Regions from separate parts of the Homo sapiens genome. Here region 2 is linked to region 1. Evidence: fine-mapped expression QTL. Tissue or cell type: esophagus mucosa. Region 1 holds a variant in brackets; the other region holds the start of a gene. All regions are shown on one strand. Distances are from middle to middle.

What was found. PIP is the estimated chance that this variant, and not a neighbour inherited with it, causes the effect.
Region 2: it holds the start of KCNK13, and the variant in region 1 is fine-mapped to the expression of KCNK13 in esophagus mucosa (GTEx, PIP 0.92).

The regions. Positions count from the first base shown.
Region 1 is chr14:90,100,848-90,109,044 of GRCh38, forward strand. The region is part of intron 1 of KCNK13 (potassium two pore domain channel subfamily K member 13); the gene reads left to right. It also overlaps the pseudogene GLRXP2. Among named protein-coding and RNA genes, the nearest start is that of KCNK13, 43 kb to the left of the region's middle. The variant C/T (reference allele first, on the strand shown) is at 4,447.
Region 2 is chr14:90,057,229-90,065,389 of GRCh38, forward strand. It overlaps KCNK13 (potassium two pore domain channel subfamily K member 13), which reads left to right and starts at 4,766. Exons shown (of 2, transcript NM_022054.4): 1 at 4,766-5,311. The coding sequence starts at 4,978. LOC124903406 reads left to right here. Exons shown (of 3, transcript XM_047432048.1): 2 at 3,174-3,683; 3 at 4,134-4,505. The coding sequence ends at 4,398. RefSeq lists a silencer at 3,069-3,458 and enhancers at 3,707-4,208, 4,209-4,708.

The DNA.
Region 1 (8,197 bases):
ATGCCTGGCCAATTGTTTTATTTATTTGTAGAGACAGAGTTTCACTATGTTGCCCAGGCTGGTCTTGAACTCTAGGGCTCAAGCAATCCTCCCACCTCAGCCTCCCAAAGTGCTGGAGTTACAGGTGTGAGCCACCGTGCCTGGCCAGCACGAGATATTTGAGTCAAGCAGATGCTTCCACGTGCTTTGCAACTAAGGAGGTTGCAGTATATGATGGAATTATGTCATTCGAGGTACTTCAATCCCCTGTTCAGTTTCTCAGTCTGTAACATGGGCTGATAATAATCACACCTCAGAGTTGTTCTGAGGAGTAGACCAGGTGACGTAGGCAGGGTGTTTGGAACCATGTCTGCTTCACAGTGAGCACAAAATACTCACTGTTGCCCTTGTTGTTCAGTCTCTCTCTGAAATCGCTTCTGGCACCAAATGGGCAGGAGATTTGATTTCTCTGAAATCTTGATCTGAAGTCCCAGCACGTCTCCACTCATATCTTGTCCCGGACCAGAGTGTTGTCCTCGTATGGCAAAACCAATACTTAGACGAGGGGGCAGGGGCATCACATTCAGAAATTCTCCCATGGGGTGCAACGCAGGAGAGGGATACAAGACTACAAATTGGGTTCAGGGTATGCTGCTCTGGTGATGGGTGCACCAAAATCTCACCAGTTGGCCGGGTGTGGTGGTATAATCCCAGCACTTTGGTAGGCCCAGGCAGATGGATTGCCTGAGCTCAGGAGTTTGAAACCACCCTGCGCAACATGGTGAAACCCCATCTCTACTAAAATACAAAAAAATTAGCTAGGTGTGGTGGCGTGCTCCTGTAATCCCAGCTACTCGGGAGGCTGAGGCAGGAGAACTGCTTGAACCCAGGAGGTGGAGGTTGCAATGAGCTAAGATCGTACCACTGCACTCCAGCCTGGGCAACAGAGTGAGACTCCGTCTCCAAAAAAAAAAAAAAAAAAAAAACCTCACAAGTCACCGCTAAAGAACTTCCTCATGTAACCAAATACCACCTGTTCCCCCGAAAACCTATGGAAATATTTTCTTTTTTTTTTAAACGGAGTTTTGCTCTCGTTGCCCAGGTTGGAGTGCAATGGCGCGAACTTGGCTCACTGCAACCTCTGCCTCCCAGGTTCAAGCGATTCTCCTGCCTCAGCCTCCCAAGTAGCTGGGATTACAGGCATGTGCTACCACACCCGGCTAATTTTATATTTTTAGTAGAGATGGGATTTCTCCATGTTGGCCAGGCTGGTCTCGAGCTCCCGACCTCAGGTGATCCACCTACCTTGGCCTCCCAAAGTGCTGGGATTATGGGCATGAGCCAACGTGCCCAGCCAGAAATAAAAAATTTTTAAAAAGAAATCCCCCCATTGAAATGGACTCCTTCAGATCTATACGGGCTCCAGGAATTCCCTTTAAGGCAGAATGTACAGCTGTGATGTAGAGCTGGTAACAACACCAGCCAGCATACAGAAAGCTCACTGGCTGCAGATTCAGTTCATAACTCTCCCATCAACTATAGTATCTTCATTAATTGATGTAAAATTGAAGCTTAGAAGAATCAAGTAAGAATCTTGCCTGTGCTGCAATGCTGGGTGGCAAAGGCAGGATTTGATCCCAGATGATTGGACTCTAGCACCCATCATCTCAATCCCTACCCTATGCAGCCACCTTCAGGATGTTGTCTTCTCTCCTGTTGCCTTCCTGGTTATTGGGAGTCAATGACACGGAGAGTAGAGTCTCTCCCATGACCCCCTATGAAATTCCTCCCATTATTCCTCATAGCCTTTGGGAAGTGCTTTTCCGCAGAGCTTCTCAGTCAGTATGGCTGTGCTGTCTCAGATGTTAACACTGACTTTCTGTCTCCCTGTGGGTTGCTGTCTTCCAGTTGAGTTGCCAAGCTTTCATCTGAGATATTAGACATTAGATTTGGGGGAATTTTAGTTCTGTTAACATTCTGGGATTTTTTTCCTCCAACTTTTATTTTAGATACAGGAGGTACATGTGCAGGTTTGTTACATGGGTGTATTGTACTCAGGTAATAAGCATTATACCCAGTAGGTAGTTTTTCAACCCATGCCTCCCTCCATCCCTGCTCTAGTAGTCTGCAGTATCTGTTATTCCCATGTTTATGTCTGTGGACGCTCAATGTTTAGCTCCCACTTATAAGTGAGAACATGCAGTATTTGGCTTTCTGTTCCTGTGTTATACACTTAGGATTATGACTGCCAGCTCCATCCACATTGCTGCAAAGGACATAATTTTGTCCTTTTTTAAGGCTGCATAATATTCCATGTTGTATATGTATAATACCACATTGTCTTAATCCAATCCACTGTTGATGGGCACCTAGGTTGATTCTATGTCTTTGTTATTGTGACTAGCAAGGTGAGGAACATACCAGTGCATTTATCTCTTTTGAAAAATGATCTGTTTTCCTTTGATATATACCTAGGAATAGGATTTCTGGATCAAACGGTAACTCTAAGTTCTTTGAGAAATCTCCAAACTGCTTTCCACAGTGGCCAAAATTACTTACATTCCCACCAATAGTGTACAAGTGTTCCCGTTTCTCTGCAGCCTCGCCAGCATCTGTGGGATTTTAAGGGCAATCTGAGTTATTTTATCTAGGACCTTTTCCCATGAAAAATAATGCAGGTATTTTTGGAGATTCAAACACACATAAAACTAGGGCATCCTGTCCACCCCAGGGAGACAGACAGGTTTTCTTTTCTTGGGGGACGGAGTTTCGCTCTTGTCAGCTGTAATGCAATGGCGTGATCTTAGCTCACTGCAACCTCCACCTCCCGAGTTCAAGCGATTCTCCTGCCTCAGCCTCCCGAGTAGCTGGGATTATAGGCTCCCACTACCTTCCCCGGCTAATTTTTGTATTTTTAGTAGAGACGGGGTTTCACCATGTTAACCAGGCTGGTCTCAAACCCGGGACCTTAGGTGATCTGCCTGCCTTGGCCTCCCAAAGTGCTGGGATTACAGGCGTGAGTCACTGCACCAGGCCCAGACAGTTTTTTGTTGTTGTTGTTTCTCTCTCTCTCCTGGACCAGAGAGATCTCTAAGTGTATCTCCTACCTCTAAAGACTTTGCCCTTTCAGCTTCCATTCTCAGCAGCTCAGTGAGACATGGGCCATACCCAGATGTATAAGATCAGTCTCTAGGCTTCCTGAAGACCCTGTCTTTCCTCTTCACATTCCTGTTGGGCAGGAGTCAACTTCTCTTGTCTCTTTTTCTCTCCTGATCTTACCCTTTTCTGAAAACTCACTCATCTCGCTCCTCTACTCAATTTTCCTTTGACATGAATTTTTCTCTTCTCAGCCGAGCCTCCTAATCTTGTTCTTCCTCAAGGACACCTTGGAATAAAAGCCTGGCATGTCCCTGAGTGCCTCCTCCTCCTGTGAATGCCTTTTGGCCCCTCCCTGCATTCTTGTTGGGTGTCAGGAACTGCGTGGTTTCTGGGCCTTCTCTCCAGACCCCTTTTCCCCTCCTAAAACAGTAACATCTTTGAAATCTATGATCATATAGGCCATTCTTTGATGAGTTTCTGGAAACCTCACTGAGAACACATTGTCTGGAGACCATTTTCTCTCTTGGCACAGCAGCACCCAGAAGGCAATAAGACACCTTGTCCCTGTCACACATACATTCCTATCTTTGGGGACTCTTGGGATTTGCTTGATAATAGTATCTTTTTTATGTCTTTGAAGGCTTTGTGTGATCACTTGATGAATCCTGCCAGAATTGTCTCACAAAGGTGATGTGCATTCTGTTTCTTTCCTGGGCCACATATCCTCCTGGGATGGTCAGATTAAGCCCAAGGGAGACGCCATCCTACCCAGGTTGGGCAAGGAAGGTGGAAGAGTCTCGGGGGTCCCTTTCCATATGAGGTGTCACTGTCTTGAACTTGGGGATCAGCTACTTTCTTTTCTTTTCTTTTTTTTTTTTTTTTTTGAGAGAGTCTCACACTGTCACCCAGGCTGGAGTGCAGTGGCACGATCTTGGCTCACTGCAACCTCTACCTCCCAGGTTCAAGCAATCCTCCTGCCTCAGCATCCCGAGTAGCTGGGATTACAGGCATGCACCACCATGCCTGGCTAATTTTTTGTTTTTCAGTAGAGATGGGGTTTCACCATGTTGGCCAGGCTGGTCTCAAACTCCTGACCTCCAGTGATCTTCACGCCTCAACCTCCCAAAGTGCTAGGATTACAGGCATGAGCCACCAGCCAGGATCAGCTACTTTCCAACTCCATTTTGCTACGTTAGGTAAATGGGTTACATAAATAGGGTGAGGTTGGGTCCATCCATCCATCCAAGGCATTCAGCAGCACCGTGTCTCTCATTCACGCTGGTCTCCTGTCTCCTGATTGTCCAAGCTTGTTTCTGCTTTAGGCCCTTTTCTTCTCTCAGCCCTTTTTTCTCTCAGCTTTTTATAAAA[C/T]TGGGTCCCCATCTTCAGCCGCACCTGAAGACATGAGATCTTCTCTCACCCCCTTGGTGAAGTAGTCCTCACCTCATTTATTCCCTCTAGAGTCCTCGCCTGAAATCACAGATGTTAGAGGAAAAAGGGGTCCCTTGACTTTAATATACAGGATAAATCAAGTGACAGAACAACCAACGTTGGAGCAACCCAAGTTTTTATACAGTTGATGGGGACATTCTGTGTATGGAAACTAAGTACCACCAACCCTGTGGCCCTGGATTGTGGTCGTTGAGGGTACTAGGGTACTCATGGGTTAGAGTCCCAAGCTTTGAGTCTTTAACTACAAAATCCATTGTCTCCCCAAATCAAGGAAGTTGTTTTTTTTTTTCCTTTTGGCCATTTTTCTTGAAGGCCCTTGAATCCAACTCTAAACAGACAAGGACAGGCAGCAATTTGTGTCCAAAGAGAGCCAGGCACAAGGGATCTGTTTATTTTATAGCTGTAATTTCTGCATACGAAAGAAAAGGTCCTAGGTTAAAAATAATAATAACAGTCCGACAAAGGTTTTGTGCTTCCTAGTAAGACGGCATGATGTTCCAAATCATTGTCCAGGCCTTGGCAAAAGCAGGGGCATAGAAGGAGGTTTTCTGTGGAGACAAGGAGCCCTCCAGAGACTTGGGCAGGCTGAGCCGGCAGTGCTGGTGGCAGGAGGCCAAGTCCTGGTTGGGTCTGAATTCATGGCTGTCTGGTTCTTCTGAAACTAGTTATCCCTGTGACCTTGGGCATTCCATCTCCCTGGGTTTCAAGGCCTTTGAAAAATGAGGTGATTCAATCAGAATAGTTCTGCTCAACTCCTATAATACCTGCTAACTCCCTTTTTATGTCAAAAATAATTTAGGAGCTCGGTGCCATAAGGCCTCACAGTAAACACAGAACTTCTGAAGAGATCTCATTTTGACATACTCTACCATCTGAAATGTTTTGCACATCACATACTAATATGCAAAATAAGAAAGGTCCTGGGCGCAGTGGCTCACACGTGTAATACCAGCACTTTGGGAGGCTGAGGCAGGTGGATCACCTGAGGTCAGGAGTTCGAGACCAGCCTGGCCAACATGGTGAAACCCTGTCTCTACTAAAAATACAAAAATTAGCCAGGCATGGTGGCTCATGCCTGTAATTCCAGCTACTCAGGAGGCTGAGGCATGAGAATCATTTGAACTCAGGAAGCAGAGCTTGCAGTGAGCTGAGATCTCGCCACTGCATTCCACCCTGGGTGACAGAGTGAGACTATGTCTTCAAAAAAAAAAATTTATGATACTATCATGAAATTTTATAAATATTTATTATCCTGAAATGAAATTTTATAGATAAAATAAACTATACATATATTTTAGAAAGACATTATACTGCCCTAATTATAAAAGAATAAACAACAGAAAACATTTATAGTAAAATAATATAGGCTGGGTGCAGTGGCTCATACCTGTAATCCCAGCACTTTGGGAGGCCAAGGTGCATGGATTGTTTGAGGCCAGGAGTTCCAGACCAGCCTGGCCAACATGGCGAAACCCCGTCTCTACTAAAAATACAAAAATTAGCTGGGAGTAGTGGTGCACGCCTAGTCCAAGCTACTCCAGGAGGCTGAGGCAGGAGAATCGCTTGAATCCGGGAGGCAGAGGTTGCAGTGAGCTGAGATCGCACCACTGCACCCCAGCCTGGGAGACAGACTGAGACTCCATCTCAAAAAAAAGAAAGTACATAAATATATAAATGCTAGAGTCTGACTATAATGAAGCGCTCGGGTGTTTGTACCTGCGGGTAGGCTGACACAGGTGCTCTGTACCACACACCACCGCTTTACTGTCCATGATGAGATTGCCTGAGATGGTGCACATTTGGTTACTCTTAAAGTACATGTTGGCCGGGCATGGTGGCTCATGCCTGTAATCCCAGCACTTCGGGAGGCCAAGGTGGGCAGATCACGAGGTCAGGAGATTGAGACCATCCTGGCTAACATGGTGAAACCCCATCTCTACTAAAATAGAAAAAATTAGCCAGGCGTGGTGGCGGGCGCCTGTAGTCCCAGCTACTTGGGAGGCTGAGGCAGGAGAATGGCGTGAACCTGGGAGGCAGAACTTACGGTGAGCCGAGATGGCACCACTGCCCTTCGGCCTGGGCGACAGTGTGAGACTCCGTCTCAAAAAAATATATATATATACATGTTGAGCCTTCCCTCAACTTATAGGGCAGTTGCCTGCCTGGAAATTTCAGTAAACATTACGATTGTGCAAAAGTAAAGAGTGTGTTTATTTGTAAAACAAGAATTAGGTTTGGCTCAATACTCATGCAATACCTACAACTGAGGATTCTTCCCAGGGGGACCGCAGCCTGTCAGCATGGCTCAAGAGTGTGGGAACTACAAAATCCAGCCTGGGAAGGTGGTTGTGTTCATCAAGCCCACCTTCCCATTCTGCAGGAGGACCCAAGAGATCCTCAGTCAACTGCCCATCAAACAAGGGCTTCTGGAATTTGTCGAGATCACAACCACCAACCACACTAACAAGATTCAAGATTATTTGGAACAGCTCACGGGAGCAAGAATGGGGCCTTGAGTCTTTATCAGTAAAGATTGTATAGGCAGATGCAGTGATCTAGTCACTATGCAATAGAGTGGGGAACTGCTGACGCGGCTAAAGCAGATTGGAGTTTTGCAGTAACCACAGAGCAGGCCACACGCTGACTTTCCTCCTCAAGAGCTGGATGGCATTGCATGTGATGACAGCACTTCCTGGTGGATGAATTTGGGGGGCACAAACAGCTTTTTTCTTCTTTTGCCTCAGTATTTAAAAGTGGATCAACTTGCTCTTGACCACGGGGCCAAGAAGGTTGATGGGCCATCTTGGTTTTCTTCTTGATGTGCTCTTTGGTTTTCAGAAGATTGTGACAAGTTCTGGCCTAGGATTCGCTCACTCACCCTCAATTGTTCTTTCTCTTTGGCACGCGTTTCTTACTGTTCTCCACGTGTCGGCATGCCTCTGCCTCTAAGCCAGTGTTTTTCAACTATGTTTCTACAGACTCCTTCTCCACAATGATGAATCCTTGGTTGGTTTTCTGCTACTGCCCATTAGCTGAAATCATTTTTCCTCTTGACTTTGTGGAGTTGGTGTTATGAAATCAGTGGGTATTTTGAATGTGTTCTTTCAAACGACTGCATCTCTCCGGAGACACAACCCCACCCCATCCCATCCCACCTTGAGAATCACTGCTCTGAACCAGTGTTGTCCACCTTGTCCTCTCACAGATCTCATAGGAAATGTTCAACAATTCTGTGAAAGCTCTCAGGACTCAACTGGAGAAATCATATGAAAAGTTAAGCATAGTTGGTCTTGCTGTCATATGGATCAGAGGCACAAGTGCAGAGGCTGTGGTCGTGTAGAACACTCTGTTATTTAAGATGGCCATCCAGATAATCCTGAACACTGTGTATTTATTTGATTTAGAGTACCAGCAAAAATTAAAGCACAAAATGTAAAACATTGAGAAAACTTACAGCCCCCTACCCTAAGAGTGTATCTCTGAAAGAGCCCCCAATGCTTTGAAAACTAAGAATCCCTTGGGCCAGGCGCAGTGGCTGACGCCTGTAATCCCAGCACTTTGGGAGGCCGAGGCAGGCAGATCACGAGGTCAGGAGATCGAGACCATCCTGGCTAACACGGTGAAACCCCGTCTCTACTAAAAATACAAAAATATTAGCCGGGCATGGTGG
Region 2 (8,161 bases), 44 kb before region 1:
AAAAGTCCAGCAACACTAACATTAGCAAAGAAGAAAGGTCTAAAATCGGTGATCTAAACATCCACCATAAGAAGCTAGAAAAAGAAGAGTAAACTCAGAAGTAGAGGAATAAAAAGAATAGAGTGGAAACCCCAAGTGCAACATATCCCAGAAATGCAAGATTGGCTTAACATTAGAAAGGCAATCAGTGAAATACAACATATTAGCAGAATAAAGGAGAAAACTATATGATCATCACCATAGATGCAGATATGGCATTTAACAAAATTCAGTACTCATTCATGCTTCATTAAAAACAAAAAACTCGGCCAGGCGCGGTGGCTCACGCCTGTAATCCCAGCACTTTGGGACGCCGAGGCGGGTGGACCACGAGGTCAGGAGATCGAGACCATCCTGGCTGACACGGTGAAACCCCGTCTCTACTAAAAAACAAAAAATTAGCTGGGCATGGTGGCGGGCGCCTGTAGTCCCAGCTACTTGGGAGGCTGAGGCAGGAGAATGGCGTGAACCCGGGAGGCGGAGCTTGCGGTGAGCCGAGATCGCGCCACTGCACTCCGGCCTGGGCGACAGAGCGAGACTCCGTCTCAAAAAAAAAAAAAAAAAAAAAAAACAAAAAACCAAAAACACCAGAAAACTAGAAACAACAATAAAAGGAAACTTCCTTAATCCGATAGTTTCTATGAAAACCCCACAGCTAACATTATATAAATGATGATAAAAGGAAAGTTTTCTCCTAAGATCATAAGACAAGGATATCTGCTTCCACTTCTATTGAATAATGTACTGAGGCTCTAGCCGTTGCAGACAAGAGGGGGAAAAGATGATAAAGATCAGGAAGAAAAAAGCAAAACTTGTAGATGACATGATTATTTACAAAGAAACTCCTAAAGGAATCAACAAAACATGTACAACTGATGACTAAAGTAGCAAGGTTGAAGAATTCAAGTATTTTTGCAACAATCGTGTATTTTTATGGACTACAGCAAACAATTGAAAAGTAAAATTTTGAAATTCCATTTACAATAACATCAAAAGAATATAAAATACTTTAGAATGAATTTACAAGAGATGTGCAAAATCTCCATATGAAAACTTGGTTAAGAAACCCTAAATAAATAGAGGAATATACCTCTTTCATGAATTGTCAAGATGTTCTTCCCAAAATAGATCCAACACAATCCCAGAAATCAAGATCCCACAGCTTTTTGGAGGAAATTAAGCTGATTCTATGATTTTTTAGTGGAAGTGTAAAAGTTTTATAACATCCAAAGAATCTTGAAAAAGAAGAACAAAGTTAGAGGACTCAATTATAGTCCCACTAAAGACCTACTATAGAGCTATAAGTATGTAAATCCTGTGGTATTAGCATAAGGGTGGGCAAATAATGAACAAATTAAATTCCTGAAACTCAGGCATATTTATCTTTTCAACAAATAGCATTGGAATAACTGGAAATCCACCTGGACAAAATGACCTTTGACTCTTACCTCATACCATAAGGAAACAAACTTAAATGGATCGTAGACCCAAATATAAAAGTGTGGGGAGACAGAAAACCTATGCAACCTTGAAGGAGGTAATGATTTCTCAAAGGGCACCAAACATACAGAAAACATATTTAAGAAAATAAATAGGCAAATCAGAGTTAGAAAATATTTGCAAGATATGTATCTGAGAAAGTACTCGTATCCTGCATATATAAAGGATCTCTATAATTCAGTAACAGAGAAACTAATTTTTTAAGTGGGCAAAATATTTCAACAGAAAATTCACAAGAGAAGGTACACAAGTGGCCAGCAAGCGCATTAGACATCAGGGAAATGCAAATTAAAACCACAGTGAGATATCGCTACATCCACCAGTATTTTTAGACATCAGGGAAATGCAAATTAAAACCACAGTGAGATATTGCTACATCCACCAGTAGTTTTAAAATTAAAATGACTGATACTGCCAAATGTTGACAAAGATACGGAGCATCCAGAACTAGTGTACACTGTCAGTACAGCTGCTTTGGGAAAATGTCGGGCAGTTTCTCATAAAGCAAAATACATACCTACCCTATGACCCAGCAATTCCGCTCCTAGGTCTTTACGTAAGAGATATGAAAACATATGTCTACATAGTTGTACAAGAATGTTCCTAACAGTTTTATTTATGATGACCAAAATTTTCTAACAGTTCTCCTTTCTATCAATAGGAGGAGAATGAATAAACAAACTATGGTATACCCAAACAATGAAAAACTAGCAATAAAGAGGAAGGAATTACTAAGACATATAACATGGGTAAATCTCAAAAACATAATGTTTTCCACCAAAGAGTACATACCGGCATGATTCCATTTATATGGAGATTTAGAACAAAAAAACAGTTCTATAAAAGCGAAAGTAATCGATGGTAGAAAAATTCTGAACAGTGGTTTTCTCTGGAGGAATGTGGGTAGGGAGTTACAGGGAAGGGACTTAGGGGGACCCTGTTGGTGATGTTTGGCTGGTAGGTTGGATAGGTGATTTGCAGAGGTGTACCCATTTGTCAGAACTCACCTAATGATACACTTAAGATTTGTGCATTTCATTGTATGTAAATTTTATCCGAAAAGGAAAAAAATTCTGCAAGTAAATATTGAACCCTACGTAGTGATATGCAGGCAGAAGTACTGGGGATGAGGGCGGAAGTGTACCAAGCTCTGCAACTTACTCTGAAATGCATCCAAACAAGATGGGTTGATGGATGGACAGAGGGACGGGTAGATATCTAATAAATCAAGTATAGTAACATGTTAATTGTAGAATCTAGGTGGTGGGTATACGGGTGTTCACTGTAAAATTCAACTTTTTAGAATGTTTGAAATTTTTCATAATAAAATGGATTTAAAAGGTAATTGCAGTACTCACCCTGGGTGTATACACATGCACCCATTCTCGCGATGCCCCTAAAGCTCTTGCCCCTCAGAAGGCTAGATGAAAGAGGGGCATTGGGGAGTGAGTAACAGAGCCGAGAGGACTGCTAACAGCACCAGGGTTTCTGATGAAAATGCACTCGCCAGAGCTGTGTTTCTTTATTCGAAATCACACGGTTTTACTCAACAGGGCTCCTAGCCCTTCTGTCTCTGCTCCTGGTGCGTAAGGGCGGTGTGTGGGGCTCTGCGCCTGAAACCGCTCTCTCGGAAGGTGGGAAGATGCCCACGTATCCATTCCTCTCCGCGTACAGATTCGCTCCCACACGCCCGGGCGGGTGATTCCGGAGGGCCGCGCGGGGCTGTGTGCGCGGGCGGGGGCGGGATGTGTCTGGAGGGGGCAGAGCGCCCTCTCCCGGCCCCGGAGGGCCCACGCGGACCGGCTGAGCGTCCCACCAGCCGGTTCTGCATCCACTACCCAGATCTGCGCGCCCTGGTGGGAGCACCGCAGCCCCGGGTCGGCCCTTCGAACGCCGAGCGTCTACCCGCGGAGACCAGCGCAGGAGGCGGGCCCGCGCGCAAGGAGGCGGGCGACAGGGTGGAGTCGCCGCAGCTGGCAGCCGCACGGCTCTACCTGTTGCAGCGTCGGAGCGCGCCCGCCTGAGAAGGCAGAGCGCGGTGCGGACCTGTGCTCCGCGCGCCGGCTGGCAGGGCAGGGCCGCGGCTGCCAGGAGGCCCGGGAACAGTCCCGACGGAGCGGCGCGGAGAGGGCGCTCCCCGGAAGGTGAGATCTGAGCGCGGCAGCGGCGCCAGCGCCCGCTACAAGGCGGGGTCTCGGGGAGGGGGCCCCGGCGGTTTGCTGGAGAGCCTTGCTACTGTTCTGCATGAGGTGGGGGATGCCTTCTGCGCGGACCCCGCGTCCAGGCAAAACTCTGGAACGCACTAGGCAGCCAAGCCCGGGGGGAAGAGATGGAACGCTCCAAGGTCAAGGTCTCCTGGCCGCGGAGCCCTTCCAGCCCCCAGTGTTTGGCCTCCTCTCCGGAAGCGGGGCTGGCTCGCGGTGCGCGCTTGGTCCGGGCGGAGCCTACTAGTAGGCGCAGAGGACGCCCCCGCGCAGGATCCAGAGACCAAGGGCGCTCTGGCATGGTCAAGGCGAGGGAGGCTGCCCGGGGGAGAAGCCCCTAACTTCCTTTGCTCCCTGTTCCAACCTCCCTTTCTGGTCTCCTCTCTCCAGCCCGTCCGCCCAACGGATGCGCAGCGTTGGGGCCCGGCCGGAGGTCGGAGCCCTCGGACGCCGCAGCCCTCGGACGCCGCTCAGCACAGCCCCTCTCTCCGTGCGCCCGCCCTGGACCCCCTCCATCCCTAAGCCCCGGCAGCCGATTCGGAGACTCGGGAGGCCACAGGCTCAGCGCGACACCACGACCACAACTAGGAGGCACCATCGTCGATCTACCTGGGGAGGCACCTACAAAGCCAGCAGACTGACACCCGTGTCCTAGCCGTCGGCGGCCTGCGAAGCGATAGTCAAAGGAACCAGGACCCAGGACCCCGGCGCTCTGCTTACCCGCAGACCTCCGGACCGCGCCCCCCCCCCGCCGCCCCGCCCCGCCCCGCCCCGCCCCGCGACCGTCTCTTTGCGGGAAACTCGAGTTGGCTCGAGCTTGCCCTGAAGACGCGCCACGCCCCCTCCCCTATCTGAGCCGGACAGGGAGCCGGGGTGGAAACTGCGCCCGCATCCCAGCGCCAAGCAGACGTGAACTCTGCGCCCGTTCCCCGGGACCTTCAGCGTTAAGGAGAACTCCGAGGAGAGCAGGGGGAGTGGAGGGGAACGGCGGCGACAAAGCGGATTTGAAACTAGGAGTCAAGGAGGACGTGGGGAGCTGGCGCCACAGGAGCTACCGAGGCGGCGGCCGGGGGAGCCTCGCGGCCTGCGGGAGAGCCCGGCGGTCATGGGCGAGCCGGCGGTGGGGCGCCCGGGAGCTGGCTGAGCGCCGGGGCCCTTATTTCCCGGGGGTGTGGGCGAGACTCCGCCGACGCCCGGTGCCGTGGGCCTGGGGGCTGCCCCCGGGGGCCCGGCCATGGCTGGCCGGGGTTTCAGCTGGGGCCCGGGCCACCTGAACGAGGACAACGCGCGCTTTCTGCTGCTGGCCGCGCTCATCGTGCTCTACCTGCTGGGCGGCGCCGCCGTCTTCTCCGCGCTGGAGCTGGCGCACGAGCGCCAGGCCAAGCAGCGCTGGGAGGAGCGCCTGGCCAACTTCAGCCGCGGCCACAACCTGAGCCGCGACGAGCTGCGCGGCTTCCTCCGCCACTACGAGGAGGCCACTCGGGCCGGCATCCGCGTGGACAACGTCCGCCCGCGCTGGGACTTCACCGGCGCCTTCTACTTCGTGGGCACCGTCGTTTCCACCATAGGTAAGTGTGCTGGCCGGACTCGCTGACAACCTCCGGGCGGCCTCCACTTCCTCCGGGGGGCAGGACCGACCCTCTCATCCTTTCATTCATCCATCTGGGCGCCCAGCCAGACTCCACTGACATGAGCTGTCGCCTGATCAACAGGTGGTATTGCCTCCCCGCTGCTCTAATGTGGTCCAGGCACCGGCAGCTTCAGCGTCACCTGGCAGCTTGTTAGAAATGCAGTCTCAGTCCCCTCTGCAGACCTGCCGAGTCAGAATCTGCATGTTAACAAAGTCCCCAAAGGATTGGAATGATCCTTAAATTGGAGACGCTCTGCTCTGGGAGATTTTCAGTCTAATGAAGGAGACACGGCTTGAGTTCATGGGGAAGAAGGCTTTTACAGATAGGGACAGGAAACTAAACATTTACTGAGTCAGTCAGAGGGGAAGTGCAGATTTTAAAAGATTCTGCCCTCGACTTCACACTTACCGAGAAAAAATCAGAACAGCAGACTGAAAGTGAGGAAGCAAAAGTGCCAATGACGGTTCAAAAGATGGAAAATTTTCCACCAGGAAGAACCAGGGAAGTGACCTTTGGGCTGAATCAATTCGTGTTAGGCATAACTTGGGTTTGGGAACTGAAAGCGCGGTTGCACTCTAGAGTAGGAGAGAATCGCACTCAGGGGCCCCATGAGCTGGTTGGAGTGGTGGAAGGAAGACTAGGAAGGTCTGCTGGCTAATGGGATGGAGGCGGGGGTAGGACCTTCACTGACAGACTGAGGAGCTGGAATTTACCTAGAGGCACCTGGGAGCCATTGAGAATTTTTTAGCAAAGATGTAGCACAGCTACAATCAGCTGTGTTTATTTCCCAGCAGAAGGAAAATGATTTGGGGGAGTCTGCGCCACACCCCTAAAGATTGTTCATCCTTGAAGAATAATCAAGTGATTAATGGGGGTTAGGGAAGATGCTGTAGAAATAAATTCTGAGGGGGGCAAAAAGAGACCTGGAGCAGGGGAGGGAGGTTGGAAGAGTTAGACGGAGAGGAAGTGGCCTCCAAGCTGCAAAAAAGGCTGGCAGTTGCAAACAGCCCAGGGTGCATGTGCTGAGCGCTCTGTAGCTACTGCCCCTGTGCACTCTAGAAGAGCTCGCTGGTGAGGTGGGGCGACAAGTTGAGCCTCCTTGAGGCTCCCACACATGGCTGTGCTACATAGACATTCTGCCAGGAGAAGCAGCACAAAAGACAAAAGAGATTGGCTTCAGGTCAGATTCATCATGAAAGACTTCCCAGGGCTAGTCCAGGAATCCAGGGCTTCAGCTGATGCACAGGAGGCGAGGCAGAGGACCAGTATGATTAGGGACACACCGGCTGTATCTGAAGTGCCTGGCTCCCAGCCCCCATCCCATCCCAGATGGTGCGGCCCATCAGCAGGCCATGATGGCACCACCATAACTGGGTATCAGGCAGGAAACCTTGCAGCAGACCAGAATGGGCCCAAGATTGGTGAAGGAGGAATAACACCCCCATGGTTCTCCCCCTGAGCCCACACTATCTGCTGGACTCTTAGCCGTGTTCCACAAGCCCCTCCTCACATCACCTCCCACGTCCCAGAAGACAGTTCCAGAATCTCCACATAGGCAAGACTTGGGATGAACAAACTGATTAGGAGGTGTCACTTTGGAAGTGACCTTGACTCTACTGTGTTTGCATAGCAAGTACAGGATTTTTTTAGATTGAATGGTAACTTAGGGTGGTTTTGATGGGAGATTTGATGGCTGAATCTTTCCCACCACCATGAAAAACCATCTCTTGGTGCTCCCAGTGGGCACAGAGGCAGGAAGGAGCAGAGTGTGTGTGTGGACAGGTGCATCCATGTAGCAGGAACTGAGAGTGGCATGGGTAGGTGGCCATATAGGAACATGGGCTTTGGGGATACGAATATGACAATGTGGCATGGAGGAGTGGAAAGAAACCTGGACAAAGAGTCTGGAGTGGGAGCTTTTCATCCTGCCTCTGTATCTTGGGCAAGCCTCTTAACTATTCCGAGCCCCATCCTTTTCTCATCTGAGGCATCTACAGAGTGCCCACCTTGGTATCTGGCACATCAGCTATTTGGTGAATATTAGTCCTGCCCCCTGCTCCCTCCGTCTGCGTAAGCCTGCCCCTGTCACAGGGTTCTTGTGAGGGACAATGAGCTCTTGTAAGTGCGTGCGTGTTAAAAGGTAAAAAACATGATGTCAGTGTGGGCTGATTTTTATTTCTCATTTGTAACATTTCCTTTTAAATTGTTTCACTAATTGTTGTAATAACAGCACTGGCTAACCTTTATCAGGCCCGTATTAGGCACATACTGTATGATTATTATGTGAATGTGCAATGCAGCTCATTGCTGTGTGACATTCACACTTCATTTCAGCCAACACAACTCCATGAGGTAGGCATAACACTCCCCCGTTATAGATGAAAAAGCTGAAGGTTCAGGTTTTTTGTAAAATAAAGTATAAAGAAGAAAAAAATCAAGTTATATGCAGTAATATCATCCAAATTAACCACTGTTCATGTTTTGGTCCATTTTCTTCTGGTCTCCTTTTTCCTCTGCGTATACTTATATACATATGCATTTTTAAAAATTAGAATTATATTCTATAAACCACTCATATCTTGCATTTTTATTGTAACATTACATGATGGTGTTTTTCCTCTAAAAATTAATTCCACCATGCTTTATTCTGCAAAGACTTTGAGGTAGCAGACAAAGTATACAGGAAAATAATCATAAAATACAAATAAAACTTCAGAACCAGGGAAAAGAAGAACAGAAATACGGGATGCAAGTGGAGCTACGAAGTTGCTAGAGAGGAACTTTGTC